Homo sapiens: one gene and its partner. The protein of the gene in region 1 purifies or fractionates together with the protein of each later gene. This does not show direct contact. Each region holds a gene or a part of one and is shown in the gene's direction. Other genes may lie near its edges.

What was found.
Region 2: the proteins of KERA (region 1) and FBXO21 purify together in Homo sapiens (co-immunoprecipitation; 3 studies listed by BioGRID and IntAct, with this or other methods). This does not show direct contact.

Annotation. Positions count from the first base shown.
Region 1 is NC_000012.12:91,048,902-91,055,199, reverse strand, and holds the end of KERA (keratocan precursor), read left to right. Parts: intron 1-3,681; coding exon 3,682-3,854; 3' UTR 3,855-4,709; downstream 4,710-6,298. UniProt on the Homo sapiens protein: May be important in developing and maintaining corneal transparency and for the structure of the stromal matrix.
Region 2 is NC_000012.12:117,151,852-117,160,115, reverse strand, and holds part of FBXO21 (F-box only protein 21), read left to right. Parts: intron 1-2,031; coding exon of another isoform or gene 2,032-2,052; coding exon 2,053-2,243; intron 2,244-4,167; coding exon 4,168-4,325; intron 4,326-8,264. UniProt on the Homo sapiens protein: Substrate-recognition component of the SCF (SKP1-CUL1-F-box protein)-type E3 ubiquitin ligase complex.

The DNA of each region.
Region 1 (6,298 bases):
CAAACTGAAGACTAAAAAGTGGACTTGAGTCATCTACAGAGGACTATTATCCATTAGAGAAACTGAATGCCTCTATCTTCTTTTACTCCAGGAGATTCCAATATTTCTGCCCCATTGGGTAGGCTTATTTAAGAAACCATACCAGGCACAAACAACCTCATGACTAGTAATAAAGAAAATATGATTTAAGAGGCATTAGGAAGGCATCTTTGTCCTAAACACTATATGACAGCTGATGCCTGAAACCCTCCTAATTGGAGTCTCTAATTAAACTCCGCTAATTACAGTGGGAGTCTCAAACAAGTGTGTAAAGGCTGGTGACTCCACCCCCAGAATTTCTGATTCAGTAGATGTGGAGTGAGACTTGAGAATTTTCATCTCTAACAGCCGTCCAGTTGATGTTCTGGGAACTACACATTGAGAACCACTACTATAGTTTAAGGCTTTATTAATTAAAATGGAAAGAAATTTCCCTGGTAGCTGGCAACTCCTTGGGACTTACAGGCAATCGTCAGGTAGAATACTCTCTCCTTTCCTGAAAAGAGCTTTTCATAAGGGAGTGAGAGATGAATTCAAAGTTTTTGGAGGCAGAGGCATCATCAAGAGAAGAAGTGATTATAGAAAGCAGATGTTGGACACATTAGAGACAAACTTGGCTTCTTCACAATTATGCATGAGACTAGGCTGGACTTGGTGTAAAAATAGGTCCAGCCACAGGGGTACGATACCTAGCCTGGCATTTATCTATGCATCTTCAAACTCAGAGTAGACCCTTTAAAAATAACTCTGGGGAGATTTCTCCAGGACAACCTAAGAAAATGCATTCCAAAAGTAATATTCAGTCAGGATAGTTTGTAAGAGAATAACAAAGATAATTTGTCAAAAGGTTGTGCTGCCTGGGTATTACTCACTAAAGCTTTTTAAGCAAATAATCACATAAACATATCATTTATAGGAACAGACTATTTTTCCACTGGGAACTGCTCAGTTATTTAAGAATTTTTGTTTTTTTGGTGGGGGGAGTTAAATAACAGTGTACTTGAGTCTACAATCCAGGAATTAAATGGCAGCCTGCCATCATAGCGGTTATTTTTCCATGGTGATGAAATGTATTGTTTAATCCTGTAGTCAAAAACAAAAGATGCAACAGAAAAAAAATGTTAAGAGATGAATCTGTTTAGCTGAATCAAATAGAACAACAACAATATTGACCTAAATACATAATTTTTCCTGACGAGTGTTCTGTGCTTCTACAGGTATATTACAGGTACATTCCTTAAAAGCCCCACGGACAATTGATGTGGGAAGTAAACTTCAAGTGACTCCACATAGAGCCCTTGCTTACAAATTATGCATTTCATCCTGAGCATTTGTGAATTAGGGTGTTTAGGAGTGAGGCAGCAGTATTTAAAACACAGTTGAGAAGTATAAGACTTTAGCTTATGGAGTATTATGTGTGTAGTATAGACCCACATTTTAGAGTTTTATCAAAGTGTTTTCTCATAGGTTTCTAATTTTCTATCGTTCTCAAATCTGAGTGTGCATCAGAATCACCTGGAGATCTTATAAACCCAGGTTGCTGTTTCCTACCCCCAGAATTTCTGACTTGCTGGGTCAGAGGTTGGGCCTCACAGTTTACTCCCCAGGTATTAATAGTATTGATGTTGCTGGCTCACGATTTGAGAACTACTATTTAATCCTTGCGAGAAACTTGTGTGATATTATTAGGAATTTCTGAAAGAGAGAAACTGAAGATCAGCTAGGGGAGGATATTTGCCCAAGGACAAAGGGTAAATGCAATAGCCAGAACCTGAGTCTGAAGTGTTTTTTTCACTCATACAGTATAATAACAATACTTTCCTTCATTGTCATGAATACAAATTTTTAAAAAATTCTATCAGTAGAAAAGCAACAAAGAGAAATCTAGTTATTTACTTTTTAATGTAGATATCAAATTTTGTCATTTCAATATTTAAGAAAATAAATATAAGAGTTTCCCTGGAGAGAATATTGATATAATAATATCACACTGTGTCAAAACTGTTTAAGTACTTGCTTCTTCTAGCCACATCATCTACTCTAGTTGTAACAAAGTGGTCTCTAAGAAACATATCTCCTCTATGAAAAGACATCAAAATTTATGAGACAGTGAACTTGTCTTAAGCAATATGATGGAAATATTTATTTTTCTGAAAACTTTCAGGGATTTAAGATTAGGTAAAAATGTTATTTACTCAACTACATTACTTTCTGGTGTTCCCTGAGAAACACTGTAATTTATGAAAATGTAATTAAATTTAGAATACTTCTTTTTTATATTCATTTATTCAGACATACATTGATTATGGGACATGAGCTTGATGAGGATAAGGGGATTGCACATCGAAAGGGACATATTCTTTTGGGCAAGAGACACATTGTAGAATTAGAAAGAATCGGCCAGGTCTCAGCTCTGCCACTTACTTTCTGAAATAAGTTGTGTGCATTTCCTTATTTCTCTGAACCAGAATTCCCACAAAATGCCCAGGTATGTAGAATAATAATATTGGCTGATAAAGCCTGTGAGATGATCAGGTGATACTTGGATGTATGTAAAAAAAGAGAACCTGATTTTATAACAACTAAACTGCTATTCAAATGAGTCATTATTTTTATTAAATTCAGTTTACAAAATGGCATAAATTCAAAGCAAAGCAACCTTGCTGGAAACATAAAATTATTCACTACAATATGAATCTATATAAAACAATAGGCCACAGAGGAGGGGCATTGCCCAAGTTCAGTGGGTCTAATCAGGGAAGATCTCTTGTTTGGAATGGTTTTGAAAAGGAATTTAAAGGTAATATATGGATTCATGGTTGAAATCAGCTGTTACAGAGTACCCTGAATTTTGCTAGTTTAACTGGCCTTCTCTCCTGTATGTTCCTAAATCTCAGCATAGTCATTGGTGCCAAGGGCTTTGATCCAAGGCAGGTGCACAATTACTCCCATCCTAACCATATGAAAAGGCTGCTGGGATATTTTCTGGCTTGAGTTCTTTGTCATTCAATTCTTAGCAAAATTTTAGTTTCCAATTAAATAAATTTGAAGATGAAGATTCAAGATTGTTTTCTGTATTGCTTATGTAAAGTTATGTTAATTGTACTTTTAAAATCATGTTATGCACACTATTTTGCATCTTTTAAGGTAATTTTCAAGCATTTTCTTTTATATTAGATTGATTTTCTACTTACCCATCCAGGATCCATCCATCCATCCATCCATCTACTCTTGTACTTACCCATTCTTTCAGTCCCAAATCTGAACTGTTGTCTCCACCTCTGATGCCCTAAATCCTACCTACAGCAATCTAAATGTGCTTTATCTTACCTGCAAATTTAGAAAACAAGTGACGTCTTATACACATTTGTTTCTATCACAGATCTTAACAGTATTTCCTTACTAGTGCTCTATACTAAGTAGCAGAACATGGACTGAGATGACTGTTAAGTTTGCTGAACTTTTGTTTGGGGGAAACAGATAGGCACAATTTCTCACTGACACAAATGTTTTGTATAACCACTATTTTCATATATTAGGCCACTAAGCCCTCCATAGGACCATGGCATTAGTTTTTTGGTCTTCCCACTGTTAGTTTCTCTTGTGTTCCAATTCATTCATCTATTCTCTTTGTCACTGTAGGTGTGAATGTCTCTGTAATATGTCCCAGCCCATCCATGCTGCCTGCAGAACGAGATTCCTTCAGTTATGGACCTCATCTTCGCTACCTCCGTCTGGATGGAAATGAAATCAAACCACCAATTCCAATGGCTTTAATGACCTGCTTCAGACTTCTGCAGGCTGTCATTATTTAAACACATTCTCACCAAATCTAAAATTAGTTTAATGAGCTGTTTCTGACATGAAATGTGGTTACCATTAATAGGTTTAGGACACAAGTCATATTCCCCATTGCTCTCGGCCACCATTTTCATTTGTGCAGTGTATTTTTTCTATTCAAAGATGCTTTTGCCAGTTACATGCATCACAGCCTGCATTAATTTGCTTTTCTTTTAATTAATAAAACAGACACAGAGTTAAGATAGTTTATCAACTCAAAGATAGTTTTATTTTGGTCTCTTCCATAGCTTATTAACACTAAAGAAAACAATTACATTCTTATACAATAAAAAGGACACATTTGTGTATGTTTAAAATTACTTATGCAGATACCGTAATTTACAGTATAAATGTAATAATCAAACAGGAGGATAACGACCTGAAGAAAATGAGAAAATAAAATATTTCTTAATTGTAATCATAATAAAACAATTGCAGATTGCTAAGTAGCTGTTGGTGGTACAAGTTTGATATTTAGCTTGAGAATGGGTATGGAATGAATCAAATACTTCATCACTAAAGAATTCTTGTTATTTAATATCAAATAATGAAACAGCAGTCACTTCTAGTTCATTACCATTTCTTGTAGCTGTTGTTTTTAGATATAGTCCACTGCATTCTTATAAGTTCTAAATTTTATGTTTATTATAATGCATTTCTTGTGGAATCTTAGTGTTTTAACATTTGAAATCCACTTAAACTGCAAATTGTTCTTTATATTTGATTGTGTTTTTTGGATTTTCTAAATAAAAATATTGAATGCTTTCTAACAAAACAGAATATTTCAAAGAAATTAGCAAGCTTCATTAAAGAACATGTTTTAATAAAAATGTGTTATAGTAAAAATTATTTTCATTTTTCTGGCATAAATATATTCAAATATGTTTACTCCTACCTTCATTTTCCTTTTCTTCCAGAAAACATAAAAAAGTTTTTATTCTAATCACTTGACATATTTCTGATTTTTGTGAATTAAGAAAAACAGAATTTCATTAAGTAACAAAGTACCGTGTACTTTACATTAGCCTTATGACTTTACAAACATATGTTATAAGCAATCTGTATTCCATAAAGATCAATGGATGCCTTTATATACATTTTCCCAACAGTATTCTTTAAAATCCTACAAATCTGGCATATTTCCACAGAAAAATGATTATATATATTTGTAAAACACTAGGTTAAAAATGTCCAATTGTTTACTTCAAAGCCTCTCAGAAACGTAATATGCTATTTTATAATGTAAATTTCCAAGAAAATAATATAATGTGCAACTACGTTTTTACACCAAATTTATTTGAGGGTGAAGAAGAACCAATCCTTACTATAACCTTATACAAAACTTACTACTTATTTTTACACCAAAACTTATTTGAGATTGAGAAAGGAGAACCGATCAACAAACTTTGAACATAGTTTTTAAAATGCTGGCTGAAAGTAATAAATCAAATCAATTGACATTAACAAAAAGAAAAGTGTTTTAAATGACCTCAAAGCACATAAATAAAATTATAAAAATTATGTCATAAAAATAGAAGTAATCAGATATCATTAGACTGAGAAAAAATATGTGAAGGGGAACATAACTTTAAATATTTGAAAACATGCCATTTGAAAAGGGCACAAAACATATGCCAGGAAGCCCCAAAATGAAGAGTAGAACATATGGTTAAAATTGATAAGAAGTCATATTTTGGCTCTAGTTAAGAAAGAATTTTCTGATATTGTTCCAAGTCACCCAGCAATGGAAGTAACTTTTCTTGAGGTAGAGTTACCCACCTCTGGACTTCAAACAGTGAATAAGTGGTAATTCAAGAGGCAGAGTATAAAATGGAGTCCTATGTGGAAATAACATTGTCATGGTATGTTTCTCCAAGAACTTTTCAACTCTAAGAATTTTCTACCTTCCCTCCTTCTTTAAATATTTCTTGAGTACCATATATATGACTGTATTACACACAGATGAAATAATATTGTTTATGGTTTATTCTACAGTGAGACACAAATTAACTGAAAATCACAAAAAATATGTACAATTTCATATGTGATAAATATTAACAGACAGCTGCATGCTGCGAAGGAATTAATAATAGTGATTTGAGAGAAGGATTCCCTAAAGAAATAATGATTAAGGAAACATATAAAAGACTAAAAGTACTTAGCAGCACAAGGTAGAAGGGAAGAATATTCCACGCCGAATTTAAAGATTCTAGTCCTTAGGAATAATTTGAAAGTCACTGAAGAGTTTTAAATCATAAGGGATTATTTTCATTGTAGAGTAACATCATGCAGTGGTAAAGAACACTAACATTGAAGCTAAAGTTGCTGAGTTCAAATCCCAGCTTTGCCACTTACTGGCTTCATATCCTGGGCAGAACCTTTAAATTATGTATGCCTCAGTGTTCTCTTATCTGTAAAA
Region 2 (8,264 bases), about 26 Mb from region 1:
TTACCAACCCCTAGGCTAGAGGGAGAAGAGCAGTATAGGGAAATGCATCATGGGTAATAGACCCCAATCCAGGATCTCCACCCCAGAAGTGGTGATCTTGCGGCATTCTAGCCCTAGAGTATTTGGTGGGGACGGCATGGTGCCTGGGTCAACACTGTCTGCAAATACGCCAGGCCCCGAGGCACAATGTCTTCATTTCTGCCCTCTCCCTTCGCGCTCAGCCACACATCCAGCGAAGGTGGGGGTAATTATCCTTGACCTTATCTAGACTTCCTCTGTTCTCTGACGATGCCAAGTTCTGACCATTTTACTTATCTGATGGGGAGGTGGCTGCTAGGAGAGAAGGGGAGCTGTGTGTGTGGAACACAGTGGAGGGGCAGAAAAAGCGGCTTGTTGGTACTCTTTCAGGCCACAAGGACAGCCATTATGCAGGCACTGTCAGTAGGCGCTTCCTATTAAAGTAAAGGGTAAATCTGCGAGTGTCCCACAATTAAAAGCACCCGGCTGGAGGTAGAGGCACAGGGGGATTGGCTGTCTGTTGATTCTTGTCAAAACTGGGTTTGGGGTACTTGGGATTATACTGCTTTGTCCATTTTTATGTGTTTGGAACTTTTTGTAGTAGTTAATTTAAAATGCTCCTGCTCTTGCTAGGATATGACACTGGTTGAGACCAAGAGTTGATCTTCACACCCAGAGCCACAGCCTCACTCCACCTCTCCACAACCCTGTGACCCCGGGAAAGTCACTTCACTAAGCCTGAGTCCTGTTCGGGAAGTGGCAGTGATTAAAAGCTTTTTTTTTTTTTCCACCTAATCCTCCCAATTTGAAGATCAAGAAATTACTGACCTTCAAATGGGAAGGATTAAGTGAAACAAAAAACCTGATGGACTTGGCACAGTGACCAGCAGAGAATAGTGTTCAGTAAATGTTGAGGTCCAGCACGTCGCAGTCTGAAAGGCAAGATAATAACATGGTGCATAAAACTGGAGTTTTCACAATACTTTGACAGGCTCACAATGCATCAGCAAATAGGACAGTGATTACTCATGATTTGATAAGCTAAGAAAGGAATTCAGAGGTAAAAACGCCAGCTAGTCTGACCGATCTGGGCCTAGAGTCCAGGTTGCTGTAACGCACTAAGCAGGCTGTAATCCAGGACTCAGTAAATTGGAAGGAGAACCTTGTCAGAAATTCTATGCTAAGGGCTGTAAACGTAATGGGTGCGAAATAATTGTATGTCTGTGTCTTTTTAAACGTGGAGTTTTTTCCACAGAGGCACTGTGTGCAGTAGAGGCGGTAATAGTGGAGTCAGACAGGGCTGCTACTCTGTGCTACTAGTTTAACCTCTGCATAGATGTAGTTTCTCCTGCTGCCTGCTGAATACCAAATACCATGATGAGTTAAGACCACTGAAGTGACCAGCAGGATTTTAGAACTCTGATATACGTGGCTCCCTCCTTCTAGTGTAGCTTCATAAACTCAACGAATGCATCCCTTTGGTGCCCACTCTGTGACCTTTTCCATCTTTTCCAGCACTGAGGCAGTTGTGTCAGACATCCTCTTCGTCTCGATTAAAGCAATTTAGCATTTTTTTTTCCCCTCTGAATTCGTGAGTGGCAAGTGAAAATCATTCCTGTGTATTGAAAAAACGTGGATTCTCACATTTCCCATGCCGACCAAGCATGCTAGGTGCTGTTAGAGCCCACCTCATCCAGAGTGCCCTAGGTGGTGGGCCCTCACCTGCGTCCCCAGCGCTTATCCCAGCACACTGGTTTCCAAAGAACTCCTCAGGTTGACACTGGTTGAATTGGGGTATCCTGGGCCAGCTGCCAGTGTTACAGTAGAGCCCAACCCTGGGCATCTGCAGTGCCGATTTGGTGGCGGTCCATCAGAGGATGGTCCAGAGACCTGGACCGGTTCGATCAGGGCATAGCCACCCCTTTTGGTCCTTTGCTTTGTTAGGTTACGTAGGTAGGTCTAAATCCCTCGCCGCAAAAAAGAAAAGGCCTAGCTGAAAATATTATCTTTTAGTCTTTCTGTCTTGTTTTGAAGGTGCTTGACATCCTCCAGCACATCCAAACCCTAGACCCGGGGCAGCACGGGGCGGTGGGCTACCTGGTGCAGCACACTCTAGAGCACATTGAGCGCAAAAAGGAGGAGGTGGGCGTAGAGGTGAAGCTGCGCTCCGATGAGAAGCACAGAGATGTCTGCTACTCCATCGGGCTCATTATGAAGCATAAGAGGTGAGTGCCCGGGATCATCTGTCCTGCAGTGTCCGTTCCAGAGGGGCTGCAGAGACACACATGCACCTGGTGAGCCCCCAGGACACAGTGGAGGAGGAGCTGACTGGATCACTTATCCCCCGAGTGCGCACCGCGGGGAAGACAGAAAGCTGAACCTCTTTTTTTTTCTTTTTGAACCGTGTCTTTGACCTTTGTGTTTTTTAAGCAGCAGCTTACTTTCCTGAGAGATCTTCTAGTGTTTTTAGTGGCCTTTAGATGTTTGACCCTTCTCTGTGTGTGAGAACATGGAAGTAACTTTGTAAGACACGAGTTTTTTCTCTCATTTCCTCATTGTTCTTATATCTTGTCACTTAATCTCAGTCTCTTCAAATCCGATAGGCACTTGGTCTATTTACCAGGCAAAATTAAACTGTATCCAAAGTGATTGGAGCAGTTTACATCCCACCAGCAGGCTGGGAGCCTGGAGTTCCTATTCTCGCCTGGTGCTATTGCCAGACCTTTAAAAGTGTACTTACCTGAGAAAGGGCAAATAGTGTTTCACTGTGGTTTTAATTTCTGTTTCCTGGGTTACTAAACACGTTAAGGTTCTTTTCATATATTTACTGGCTATCCAAGTTCCAAATTTCCTTTTATTAAGCGCCTATTCAAACATTTCATTTTTCTTTTCTTTTTTTCTTTTTTTTTTTTTCTTTGGAGACAGTCTGGGTCTGTTGCCCAGGCTGGAGTGCAGTGTTGTATCTCAGCTCACCTGCAACCTCTGCCTCCCAGTTCAAGCGACTCTCATGCCTCAGCCTCCCAGGTAGCTGGGACTACAGGCGCACACCACCACGCCTGGCTAATTTTTTGTGTTTTAGTAAAGACAGGGTTTCACCATGTTGGCCAGGCACGTCACTAACTCCTGACCTCAAGTGATCTGCCGTCTCAGGCTCCCAAAGTACTAGGATTACAGGCGTGAGCCACCACACCCAGCCCATTTCGTGTATTTTTTTCTATTGAGTTATTAGTCCTCCCTAATATGATATGTAGTTGTTCTTCTGTGTATCAGTATCTACATGACGATAAGTTGCAAATATCTTTTCCCAGTTTTTGGCTGGTGGTTTTCATTCTTTATTGCATTTTTTTAAACTTTTAAATGGAAATTTGCAAAGATTTATAAGAGAGAAAGGACTATAAGGAACCAGGTGGTGTTCCTGTCATCCAGCCTCAACAGCTGCCATACGGGGTGAATCTTACTGTCCCCTGCACCCTCCAGACCTTCCTCCCTGGGTTAATTGACGCAAGTGCCAGATGCCATTTCACCTGTAGCGATTTCAGTATGTACCTCTAAAAGGCAGGGGTGCTCTCTCCTTCTCTGTCTTTTCATATTTAACATCTTATTATCACATCTAGAAAACCCCAGTTCCTTAACTTCATGCAGTATCTAATGAGAGTTCCTATTTCCCCAGTTGTCTCATATTTTTACATGTTTGGATCAGGATTTGTTAGTCTCTTGGTTTTAGTGATGTCAGATTGGTTAGTCTTTTCCTTTACGGCTGTATTTTTAGTGCCTTGTTTTAACAAACCTTCCCTATCTTGAGTCATGAAGATACTTTCTATTTTAGAAGTTCTGCATTTAACACCTGAGTCTTTGCTGTACTGAGAATTGAATTTGGTGTGCTGTTGTCAGGCCAGGTCCCCATACCTTTTTCTTTTGGGTAACCAGTTGTCATCTAATCACTTTTTGTTGAAAAGTTTATTCTTTTCCAGATAAAGTGCTATGTTGATAATAAGAGGTGTTTATAAAAGGGGTTAGGGGTGTCCTGAAAAATGATTCACCGTGGAGTAAAGCAGGTAACTGAGGATGTGAGCTGAGAAGCCACGCGGTTGTCTGGAGGTTGTTGCGGCCGGGTCTGCAGGGACTGACTGCTCCTCCTGTGTTAACTAGGTATGGCTATAACTGTGTGATCTACGGCTGGGACCCCACCTGCATGATGGGACACGAGTGGATCCGGAACATGAACGTCCACAGCCTGCCGCACGGCCACCACCAGCCTTTCTATAACGTGCTGGTGGAGGACGGCTCCTGTCGATACGCAGCCCAAGGTAAGCGGCGGGTTCCGCTTGTGCCAGTGGCCCCGCGGGCGTGTTTTCAGCGCACGTTTGAGCCCTCGGGTAGGTACTGTGGGCGTGGGCCATCGGTTCCTTCAGAGGCGGCCGACGCCCCATGGCCGGCCTCCTTCGGGCCCACAGTCAGCTAAACGTGGCTGGGTCTGCACAGGTGCCGCCCTGGCGAGGGGTCAGTAGTCATACCCGCCCTCCCCCAGGGCCTCCGCTCCCACAGCCCGGACATCTGATTGGCCACTGTCTATGCCAATCAAATTCCTGTAAGTCCTGCCTCCTGGACCCTGCCCTCGGCTCCTCCCAGACTAGAAGGGAACCGGATGAACACCTGGGGGCCCCCTAGTGCTCCCTGGCCTCCCAAGGCTGTGGCTGCCGGCTGACGCCGGAGATGCCCTCGTGTGGCCACCTGTGGGAACTGCAGCCCACTGCGCCGGCCCTGGGAGCACCTGAGAGCCCGCAAGTGTACAGTAAGGTTGGGTAGGCGTCTGGGCCACTGCCGCCCCGGCAGGTGCCAGCCCAGGGCAAGGCTGAGGTGGAGACTGACAGAGCCTGTGGAAGCTGGTAAGAGACAAGAATGCCTTCAGTGTGAGTCTCCCTTCTCTTTGTTCCTGTTGAATTTCACCTCTACTTAATAGGATGAATTCAGTGTATGTCTGTCAAAGCATTCACATTGATTAATTAATAATTCACATTTATTAATAAAAATGAATGTGAATGCTAATGTAGTGCCATTCTGTGACGGACATCATTCTAATGTATATTAACTCCATTTGAGAAACATCATCATCATCATTTTCTAGGTGAGGAAACTGAGGCACAGGGAAGCCATTGAGATTTTAACTTAGAGAACACGATTTGAAGCCAGGCAGCTTGACAGAGCCTCCTCTTCATCCATCATGCTGTACCTGCTCATGTCTGAGTTTTGACCTAACTCAATATTATGTTCTGATAAATCCAATAATCAAAATATGGGATGTATAAAAACCTCAGAACTTTCTGAAAGGCTGGAGATTGCCAGGTGAGGTGTCTCACACCTATAATCCCAGCACTTCGAGAGGGTGAGGCAGGAGGATTGCTTGAGCTCAGGAGTTGGAGACCAGCCTGGGCAACACAGCAAGACCTCATCTCTGCAATTTAAAAATTAACCAGGCAGAGTCATGTGCACCTGTGTTCCCAGCTACAACACAGCAAGACCCCATCTCTACAAAAAAATTTAAAAATTAGCCAGGCAGAGTAGTGTACACCTGTGGTCCCAGCTATTCAGGAAGCTGGGTTGGGAGGATCACTTGAGCCTGGGAAGTGAAGGCTACAGTGTGCTCTGATTGTGTTGCTGCACTCCAGTCTGGGTGACAGAGTGAGACCTCATCTTAAAATAAAAGGCTGGAAAATAATGATTATTGTCAGTTAATCAGAAACTGAAAGGATCCCCTGGAACAGCAGCATCAAGATAAATGTTTGTTGAAACTGCAGGTCGCTTGCCCTGTCTCAGTGTGATGGGGATGGTGTAAGGGGTTTCTGTGCTCCCTGTGGCAGATGGAGGCACCAACGGTAATGTTATTTAACTTTTGAAGCTGTGTCGAATATAAACAATCTCTAAAAATCAACACATGATTTGGACATTATTGACTGATTCACTGGGCCACTGGTGCCAGCACAAGTCACCTGGTAAACGCTTGATAGCCTACAACAAATGGCGTTCACAAGAATAAATGAGCATTTTCTTTTCAACAACACCGTGGGCCAGTGTCTATGGCTTTACCACATGGCATCATTATTCACTGTTTAGGGTTGGTCTTAAGTATTTGGTTTTAGGGGTTGTGATATGTTCACTTCAGAAGTTGATCTCTAATCATATCTAGGTAAACATGCAATGTAAGGTTTAGTCATAAAATTGTCATTACTGAAAAAATTAATATCTGCTTGTTGGTTTTACCATCTGTTAAATTGAGATGGAACTAAATGATGGGTAATGTTAGCAAATTGGCTTCTTGAATTTAAAACGTAGAACTTCAAAGCTGTTCCTACACTATGAGAGTTCCCGTCTTCTGCCGGCGGCTCCATCAGCGCTGTGTCAGCAAGCGCTTCCTGAGGGACTCGGAGTCCTGGGCCAAGGGGCAGATCTCCCCCAGCATGCCTGATACGTGGCTGTCTTCAGGGTCCTCCCTCTCCAGGGGACTCTCCTCTAGGCCTTCATCTCCTTCCCCCTTGGGGTGTCTGTGGATGTGCTGGTGACTCCCAAAGCCGTGTTCTCTGGGCTCTTCTCTGGGCTCCGTGCCCACCTCTGTAACAGCCCCCGGGCATGTGTGCTTGGAGGGCTCTCAGGGGTCTTCTCTCCAACATTGTTACCCCGACTCACTGAACCCATTGTTTTAACTCGATTATCTCTGTAAAGAAAGAAAAAACATGAACTCATTGTGCCCCCATACCCCCCTTGCTCCTGCCTGCCCCATCTCACTAGTGACACCACGTGGGGGCCGTGTCTTGCTCTTCTCCCCTTGCCCTCGCGATACATCTGTCTACACACCCACTGCTGTCTCCTCATGTGTCTCCCATTTCCATTCTGGTGGTCTCTGCTTGCCTACTTCCTAACTGGCACCTGCCTCCCGGCCTGTCCCCAACCGGGCATTTTCCTTAGCAACAGCAAGAGGATCTTCCTAGCGTGTCCCTGGACCGGGCCACTTGCTGCTTGAATTGACTGACCATCAGGAGTTTCTCATCGGCAGGCAGTGCAGAATGCTTTACCAGGCCCTAGGGATCTGGCCTTCCCCTTACAGCCCCAGCACGGTTCCCACGCCTGACATACTCCAGCCCACTTCCGTTCATCTTCTTTGAAGTCATCATTCTTGCTCGCACGTGGAACAGTTAAAAGAATACATCAAATACCCCCATTTACCCTCTAGTCAATTCAACAGTAAATGATTCCCATATTTGCTTTATCTATAGAGATTTTACTGTTTTCCTGCACCATTTGAAAGAATATTGCAGACATGACCTAATTATGTCTGAGTATAAGGAGATTCCTCTGCATAACCAAATTACATTATCACACCTAGTAACAATTATTTTATAATATCTAATAGTTTTCAAATTTCTCAATTGTCACAAAATAACTTTATGCCTATTTTTGGCTTGTTTCTTAAAATCAGTATCCAACCAGAATTCATTCACTGCATTTGGTTGTTTTTTTTCTCTTTAGTCTCTCTTATTAAAGACAGTTCCTCATTCTTCATTTTTTTTCCCCCCTTTTTCATATGACTTTGACTTTTTGAAGAATCCAGACTGGTTGTCTTGTAAATTTTTTTTTTTTTTTGAGACAGGGTGCTCTGTCACCCAGGCTGGAGTGCAGTGGTACAAACATGAGTCACTGCAGCCTCAACCTCCTGGGCTCAATTGATCCTCCTATCTCAGCCTCCCAAGTAGCTGGGACTGCAGGCATGCACCACCACACCTGGCTATTTTTTGTGTTTTTGTAGAAATGGGGTTTCACCATGTAGCCCAGGCTGGTCTCGAAGTCCTGGACTCAAGCATTCTGCCCGCTTCAGCCTCTCAAAGTGTTGAGATCACAGGTGTGAGCCACCGTGCCTGGCCATTGTCTTGTAAATTGTATAACATTTTGGATTTGCCTCATTGGTTCCTTAACTGTATGATGTCTGCCAGCTGGGAGTGAAGTCTGAGTCCTGATTAGATCGGGATAAGAATTCTTGGGGAGGATACTTCACATCCCTCGCCCCGTGCTTCCCACTGGGTCTCATCAGGGGCCCCCTGTGAGTGATACTGAGTTTGGTCACTTGGCTAAGATAGTGACTCACTATTTCAATTAAGAAATCCACGTGGTCACTCTGTAGCATCCTGTAAAGATCCTGTTCCCCAGTGACCTTGAACATCATGGTTTTAGCACTTTTTGAATATCCTTGCCTAAAT